Regions from separate parts of the Homo sapiens genome. Here regions 1 and 3 are each linked to region 2. The links come from fine-mapping of genetic effects on gene expression. A gene starts in region 2. Each other region holds a variant in brackets. All regions are shown on one strand. Distances are from middle to middle. Region 1 has its middle 24 kb from the start of SEMA4B. Region 2 holds the start of SEMA4B (semaphorin 4B). Region 3 overlaps SEMA4B (semaphorin 4B).

Region 1 (2,795 bases), 25 kb before region 2:
GTGAGCAATGTACTTTATCCTGCAAATGTTTGTAGCGCACCTCCTATGTGCCAGACACTATGTGAGGCACTGGTGACATGACAGCAAGCAATCTCAGACAGACATGTCTCATGCCTTTGTGGAGTGCCCCCTTTTTTTTTTTTTTTTTTTTTTGAGACGGAGTCGCTCTGTCACCCAGGCTGGACTGCAGTGGTGCGATCTTGGCTCACTGCAACCTCCGCCTCCCGGGTTCAAGCAATTCTCCTGCCTCAGTCTCCCGAGTAGCTAGGACTACAGGCACACGCTGCCACGCCCAGCTAATTTTTTGTATTTTAGTAGAGACGGGGTTTCACCTTGTTGCCCAGGCTGGTCTTGAACTCCTGAGCTCAGGCAATCTGCCTGCCTCGGCCTCCCAAAGTGCTAGGATTACAGACGTGAGCCACCGCACCCGGCCGGAATGCCCATTTTATGGAGGAGTAAACTGGGAGGACGAGCAGAAATATCAAAAAAGCCTTAAGTGCTGTGAAGGAGGCTTTAACGTAGGAAAGTCGGGGTTGCTTTCCCAAGGAGCCTGTTGAGCAGAGACTTAAAACTTTACTGCTTGAAGATAATGCACAGCATCGCCCTCATATTGAACTGTGTTAAAATGAAGAATCTTCAGCCCCCCCCCAGATCTACAGTTTCTAAATGTGCTATTTATTTTTATTTTTTATTTTTATTTTTTTTTTGAGATGGAATCTCACTCTTGTTGCCCAGGCTGGAGTGCAGTGGCGCTATCTCAGCTCATTGCAACCTCTGCCTCCCGGGTTCAAGAGATTCTCCTACCTCAGTTTCCCGAGCAGCTGGGATTACAGGCACTCGCCACCACACCCGGCTAATTTTTGTATTTTTAGTAGAGACGGGGTTTCACTGTGTTGGCCAGGCTGGTCTCAAACTCCAGACCTCAGGTGATCCACCCACCTTGGCCTCCCATCGGCCTCCCAAAGTACTGAGATTACAGGCATTTGCCACTGCGCCAGGCCTAAATGTGCTTTTTAACAAGATCTCCCAGGTGCACAGCAGCATACATATTAGGGTTTGAGAAACAAGGCTAAGGGTGTAACTAAGTTACCAGTCTGGGTGTAGCTTGGAACCAGAGGAGAGCATTCTAGCTAAGAGCCCTGGGATGGGAAGGAGCTTGGAGCAGCATGTGAAAGTCAAGGAATATTTGTGGGTATTTGCAATTTTTCTTTTTTCCGTAAGTGGGAGAGACTTGATCATGTTGAAAAGTCTTTAGGCCATGTGCGGGGGCTCAGCCTGTAATCCCAGCACTTTGGGAGGCCGAGGCAGGGGGATCACTTGAGGTCAGGAGTTCGAGGCCAGCCTGGCCAACATGGTGAAACCCCATCTCTACTAAAAATACAAAAATTAGCCAGGCTTGGTGGCACACACCTGTAGTCCCAGTTACTTGGGAGGCAGGAGAATCACTTGAATCTGGGAGGCGGAGGTTGCAGTGAGCTGAGATCGCGCCACTGCACTCCTGCCTGGGTGACAGAGCGAGACTCCATCTCAGAAAAAAAAAAAAAAGAAAAGTCTTTAGAAGTAAACCAGTTGAGAGGGAG[G/C]GAGTGGGAGACAAAGTACAGTGGAAGGGTAGATAGGAGGAGGGGCAGTTTCTGTAGGACTGGCTTCCCAACCCCCAACCTCTGCTGCTGGCTCGAATCACCTACAGAATTTGAAAATTTACATGTGTTTGGCTGGGCGAAGTGGCTGGTGCCCATAATTCCAGCACTTTAGGAGGCAGAGGCAGGCGGATCACTTGAGGTCAGAACTTCGAGACCAGCCTAGCTAACGTGGTGAAACCCCATCTCTATTAAAAATACAAAAATTAGCTGGGCATGTTGGCGGGTGCCTGTAATCTCAGCTATTCTGGAGGCTGAGGCATGAGAATCACTTGAACCCGGGAGGCAGAAGTTGCGGTGAGCCGAGATTGCACCCTTGCATTCCAGCCTGGGCAACAGTGCAAGAATCAATCTCAAAAAAACAAATAAATAAATACTGATGTTGGTTGGGCGCGGTGGCTCATGCCTGTAATTCCAGCACTTTGCGGGGCCAAGGCAGACAGATCACCTGAGGTCAGGAGATCGAGGCCAGCCTGGCCAATGTGGTGAAACCCCGTCTCTACTAAAAATACAAAAATTAGCTGGGCCTGGTGGCACACGCCTGTAGTCCCAGCTACTCAGGAGGCTGAGGCAGGAGAATCGCTTGAACCCAACAGGTAGAGGTTGCGGTGAGCCAAGATTGTGCCATTGCACTCCAGCCTTGGTGACGGAGTGACACTCTGTCAAAAAAAAAAAAACACAACTGAAGCCTGGATTCACCCCCAGAGAATCTGATTGAAATGATATGCAGAATTGGCCAGCTCCTCCAAGCGATTCCAATGCGCAGCCAGGGTGTAGAACAATTACTTTGGTGAGAAGAAGGGTAGGAGGGGCAGGGCGGTGGGGGGCTTGCAGGGAGTAGCTTGGAAGTGGATGAAGCCTGTTAGGTACCAAGGAGGGCCCATTTACCTAGGTTCCCAATTCAGAAAGAGCTTCAGATTTAGACTTTGTATGTTATTGCAAAATGTATTTGCACCTATAGCCATTGTACTTGCGTGTGTTAAAGAGCACTGTTTTGTTGTGTCTAAACACGTAAAATAACTGCATTTCTTGTAAACAGCAATCTATCCATCCATCTATACCAAGACCACCACCCTTTTCATGAAAGTAGACTGGGTCTCTCTCAATGCAGATGGAAAAAAATAAGGAAGACCCCATCTGATGACTTTAATTTTGTTT
Region 2 (2,795 bases):
TGTGGGTGCTGTGCCCACCCTCTTGACAGCATCCCTGTTGTGGGAGCAGATGTGGCAGACCCTGAAAGTCGGGAGGAGAGGAAAAGAGGTGCTCTGAGGAGGCTGATTTTGGCTGGGGGTGAAGAGGAGCTTTCCTGCAATTGCAGCAAATTTATGGAGCGATGGTCTCTACTGCCATGGAAATAACTAGCAGAGGCTTTCACTCTTTTGGACTCTTAACTACAGGAGGAACTACTACATTTTTCTGTAATCCTGTGCACACTTAGGAAAAGTTGAAGTAGCTTTCCCAAAATTACTTATCCTTTGAGATTATTGCTTAGATAGTTTCTATGTTTTGTTTGTTTCTTAATGCTGTTGGGATCCACTAAATTGATTTCAGAATCTGCTAATGGTCCAGGCTGCAGTTGGAAACCCCTGGTCTCAGCAGAGCTGAACTCCACCCGTGGAGATGTTAGGAGCCAGGAGGATTAGGGGTGGGTGCCTCTGGGCTTCCACTCCAGTCTTAGGGGTTCCCTTCCCCTGCCGGGTCACGTGCAGGTTGTGAAGGTTTTACCTCCTCAGCAGTACATTAAATCCTATTATCCCACTTAAGCTAATCTTGCCCTTCCCCCACCCGAGGGCTTCGCGTGGACAGAATATTAAGCGGACAAGCCCGCAGGGTGCCTAGACTAAGTGCTGAGCTTGTAGTGAATGCCCAGCCATGACTTGCAGTGGATTGACCTGTGCAAAAATTGGACTCTCAAGCTGCTAGCCCCAGTGTCAGCACGAGCTCGGCCGAGTTCATTTGGTCGCAGGAACAAGGGGGTCGCCAGGAGCAAGAGCGGAGGGGGCGCCTAAAGGGAGGAGACCAAGGCCTAATCACCATCCGCCCCCTAACTCCCTAGGCGCATAGCGGGGACGCAGCGTGTCCCCAAACCAACGCCACTAGCAGAGGGTCCCAGAGGAGCCGGAAGGGGCCAGGGCCTGGGCGGCGGTGGGAGGGTCTGAGCAGTGGGGGCGGGGAGCTGGGGGTCGGCTTTCGTCCGCGTCCCAGCGCTCCGGCGGCCGCCGGGGCTACTGATCCCGGGCTTGGCCCCTGCGGCAGCGCCCCGAGCTGCCGCCCCTCGCGCTGCCAGCGCCCGGGAAGGAGGAAGGGGGAAGGGGGCGGGCCGGCCGGGCTCACGGCCGACTTCCTCCTTCAGCCCCGCCCTCCGCCGCTTGCGGGTGAGCTCTGCCCAAGCCGAGGCTGCGGGGCCGGCGCCGGCGGGAGGACTGCGGTGCCCCGCGGAGGGGCTGAGTTTGCCAGGGCCCACTTGACCCTGTTTCCCACCTCCCGCCCCCCAGGTCCGGAGGCGGGGGCCCCCGGGGCGACTCGGGGGCGGACCGCGGGGCGGAGCTGCCGCCCGTGAGTCCGGCCGAGCCACCTGAGCCCGAGCCGCGGGACACCGTCGCTCCTGCTCTCCGAATGCTGCGCACCGCGATGGGCCTGAGGAGCTGGCTCGCCGCCCCATGGGGCGCGCTGCCGCCTCGGCCACCGCTGCTGCTGCTCCTGCTGCTGCTGCTCCTGCTGCAGCCGCCGCCTCCGACCTGGGCGCTCAGCCCCCGGATCAGCCTGCCTCTGGGTGAGTGCCGGGGACCCGGGGACGCGGGCCGGGGGAAGGAAGGCTGCCGGGGACGTGCCTCGTGCGGAGGTGGCCGTGACAAAGGACCAAGGAGGGGACCTGTCGGAGGCACGGGATCCATTAGGACCCCTTCTTTTTTCAAGGCGCTGCGCGGAGGGAGGGAGAGGAGAGGGGAGCTGTGGGGCCGCTGGCCCCTTTCTTCAGTTTTCTTTCTGCGTAGGGATGGGGTCTAGCCCGCTCTGTCGTCCCCCCTAGTTCCCTTAGGAGGATGCACTTTCGGCGGGGTCCGCCTGCCCATCTACTTGTCTTTGATGCTGACCAGAGCCGACCGCGGTGCCGCCCCCGAGGGCGGCTCGGGGTAGAGGGAGGCCACTGCTTGCAGTCCTATAAACACTGGGGTTCTGGTATTCCCAGCAAGTCGCAGCAGGGCCGGGAGCTGTGGTGGGCGGGCAGGCGCCCGATCCTCCCTCTCCGCCCCTCCATCCCTGGCTTGCCAGTGCAGCCCCAAGCCCCAGCATGGAGAGACCTCCAGGCCCTGGGAGCGACCAGACTGCGGATGGGGGCAGCTCTGGGCGCTGACATTCCCAAGTCCTGGGAGCGAACAGACTGCGGATGGGGGCAGCTCTGGGCGCTGACATTCCCAAGTCCTGGGCGCGACCCCTCCTCAGAGTGACCTGGGAGTAGCATCCTGGTTGGCTGGGTTCCTTTCCTGGTCCTCACATCTGCTTCTGTGGCCACCTCCTGTTTCAGCCCTCCGCCCTTCCCTCTCCTTTTCCCTTCCATCCGGTTGCTTCTCCAGCTCTTCTTGGGGCACTTGGGCTTTAGATTCAGAGGGTCCTGGATCCCAAGCCCATTTCTTCCACTGGGCAAGTAAGTGCCTTCTGCTCCCAGTGCCCCACCTTTCTCATCTGCAAAATAGGCAGTCGTAGGTGCCTTGCAAGGTGTGTTACTCGGGTATGAAGTTTATAAGTGCCCAACAGATGTATCCGCAAGCCCTTTAACTTGTTGGTTGTCATATTGTATGACTTGGAATAAAGCATGTATGAATTAGAGGTTACAGACTGAAACTGTCCCAGACTTCCATCTCCTCACAGCATCCCCACCTCTAAAAGCATCCTGTTTACAAAGGGAAATAGTAGAATCAGCACTTAAATTAAGGCAGGGCCCTAGCGGCTTCAAGTAACCCTACCTGAA
Region 3 (2,652 bases), 29 kb after region 2:
TCACCAACTGGCCTCTTCACCTTCCACATTATCCCGCTGCCACCGGCTGCCCTGTCTCACTGCAGATTCAGGACCAGCTTGGGCTGCGTGCGTTCTGCCTTGCCAGTCAGCCGAGGATGTAGTTGTTGCTGCCGTCGTCCCACCACCTCAGGGACCAGAGGGCTAGGTTGGCACTGCGGCCCTCACCAGGTCCTGGGCTCGGACCCAACTCCTGGACCTTTCCAGCCTGTATCAGGCTGTGGCCACACGAGAGGACAGCGCGAGCTCAGGAGAGATTTCGTGACAATGTACGCCTTTCCCTCAGAATTCAGGGAAGAGACTGTCGCCTGCCTTCCTCCGTTGTTGCGTGAGAACCCGTGTGCCCCTTCCCACCATATCCACCCTCGCTCCATCTTTGAACTCAAACACGAGGAACTAACTGCACCCTGGTCCTCTCCCCAGTCCCCAGTTCACCCTCCATCCCTCACCTTCCTCCACTCTAAGGGATATCAACACTGCCCAGCACAGGGGCCCTGAATTTATGTGGTTTTTATACATTTTTTAATAAGATGCACTTTATGTCATTTTTTAATAAAGTCTGAAGAATTACTGTTTAATCCTGGCTCTTCCTCTTCAAGGACAGTTGCTTTTTGAGGTAGGTCTAGTCTTCTGAGTTCTGAGAGGTTCTGAACCTCTTCTTTGCAGGCTCAAGTGAGCCAGAGTCAGCCTAGCCTGGTCAGCAACGTCTCCCTGTGGGGCGGCTCTGAGGTGGGGAGCTTAACGCACTGATAGGCGGAGGCAGGGGGTTCATTGCGTTTACCTCAACCCCTTCATTCTGCATCCCCAATTCAGTTTAGCAAGGGTAGGGACACAAGGGAAGGGATGGGATGGGATGGGGGCCCTGTATTAAAGTTTTTAATTCTTCAGATCATGCAGTAAAATAGACTTTACTGATGTACGGTTCTTTACATTTTG[A/T]TGCATGCAGAGACTCATCTAACCACCACCCCAATCAGGATACAGGCGAGTCCCACACCTCCTGCTGCCCCTTCATCCTCACACCCTCCCACGGGGACAGCCAGCGTGGGTGCGGCTTGACTTCCCGCTGGCCTCTGCTCGATATGCTGCTTATTCCTAGGATGATTGAAGGCTCTTAGAAGAGAAGTCCAGTCCTTCCTCATACCAGTGTATCTCATGTCACACATAGGGTCAAACTTCTAAACCTTTATTACTGATTAGTACAAACACAAACGGAGCAATGACAACAGCAGTGAGGAGAGGCCCTGACAACGAGGGCCGCCCCTGCCCGGGGTGAGGCTGCACAGCGCCAGCTCCAGGCTGGGCCAGCTTGGCCCGCACTGGCAACACAGGCTTGACCTTGGCCACAGCTCAGCAGTAGAAAGGTTCTTGGACAGGGTGCCAGGACACACGCTGGGGCTGCTGTCACAGGACAATCTTAAAGGAGCTGAACAAGAGAAAAGCGGTGGGTTTTCTGCTGGAAGAGGAGGGCAGGGACTAAACCCGAACTTGCCCCCTTCTCCCTTTAGACCCTTCTTTGGAACGGGCTATGTTCCGTGTGTCAGCCCCCTCTGCAAGAACTCCCCGAGACATCCAGAGGGAGCTTTCTGGACCCACACACTGGGTCAGAGCTTCTAAACCTTTATTACTAATGAGTACAAACACAGAGCAATGACAATGGCAGTGGGAAGGGGAGAGGTCTTGACAAGGAGGGCTGCCCCTGCCCGGGGCGAGACTGCCAGCTTAGCCGGCCCTGTGTGTGGGGACTGGGGCTTTCTCTCACCCTGGCACCACCTCCTGTAGCCATGCCCTAGGCCCAGAGGCAGCAGGTCGGAACCTGCAGGTACCCAGAATGAAGGGGGACCACTGTCATACCTGGCAAAGTCTGGAGAACGGGAGATGACGTGCTGGAACTCAGAGAGGTTGATGGTTCCATCCCTGTCAATGTCAGACTCCTCCAGGATCTGGGAAAGGGAGAGTTTCAGGCCAGAGCCCCAACTGCTCCCTCCCGCTCCCAGGCCTGCTCAGCTGCTCACGTTGTCGATGAGCTGCTTCATCTCAGACGCACTAAGCCGTGTGTCCTCGCCCTCTCCCGTGAGGCAGTTCACCAGCCGGCTCAGGTCTTCTCTGTTCAAGGTTCCGTCATCATCAAAGTCTAGAGAGCAGACACAGGAAGCCAAAAGACACGGTTGGGAGGGGCTCTGAGGTTCCCCAAACGGCGCCCATTTCCCAAGCAGGGCCACCACAAAGCCCACGTGGGAAGGGGTGGTGTCCTGCCGGGCTGCTCCTGGTTCTCACCAAAGATGCGGAAGGCATAATGGGACTTGATGTCTGGCGTGGCTGTGTCACTGAACACACTGAGGAGATCCAGGAAGTCCTCAAAGCTAAGGCTGTCTTTGGCTGGGGATGTGGAGAAGACCCTGCAGATTCGCTCCTTGAAGGGGTTGGCCTAGGAGAACAAACGCCACAGGACGTGGCCCAGGTCACACGCTCATTAAAGCCTACCAGAAACTTGAGAGAGCAGGTCACAGGACCAGCACCAGCGAGCTCAGCCTCGTGGGGGTGAACAGTCAGTGCTTTGGGGCCAACATGGAGGGCAGTGGGGGCACAGGAAAGCAAACTGACCCAGCTGGGGAAGGGACTGAGATGGCTTCCTGG

Evidence for each region. PIP is the estimated chance that this variant, and not a neighbour inherited with it, causes the effect.
Region 1: its variant is the best candidate, but not a certain one, in a credible set for the expression of SEMA4B in fibroblasts (GTEx, PIP 0.58).
Region 3: its variant is the best candidate, but not a certain one, in a credible set for the expression of SEMA4B in monocytes after LPS (Quach 2016, PIP 0.80).

What each region holds. Positions count from the first base shown.
Region 1 is chr15:90,175,553-90,178,347 of GRCh38, forward strand. No RefSeq gene overlaps it. Among named protein-coding and RNA genes, the nearest start is that of SEMA4B, 24 kb to the right of the region's middle. RefSeq lists an enhancer at 2,511-2,795. The variant G/C (reference allele first, on the strand shown) is at 1,581.
Region 2 is chr15:90,200,135-90,202,929 of GRCh38, forward strand. SEMA4B (semaphorin 4B) reads left to right here and starts at 1,196. Exons shown (of 14, transcript NM_198925.4): 1 at 1,196-1,601. The coding sequence starts at 1,445. RefSeq lists an enhancer at 744-1,715 and a silencer at 888-1,647.
Region 3 is chr15:90,229,065-90,231,716 of GRCh38, forward strand. SEMA4B (semaphorin 4B) reads left to right here. Exons shown (of 14, transcript NM_198925.4): 14 at 1-596. CIB1 (calcium and integrin binding 1) reads right to left here. Exons shown (of 7, transcript NM_006384.4): 4 at 2,293-2,443; 5 at 2,031-2,149; 6 at 1,870-1,958; 7 at 911-1,441. The coding sequence ends at 1,420. Among named protein-coding and RNA genes, the nearest start is that of CIB1, 3.6 kb to the right of the region's middle. The variant A/T (reference allele first, on the strand shown) is at 955.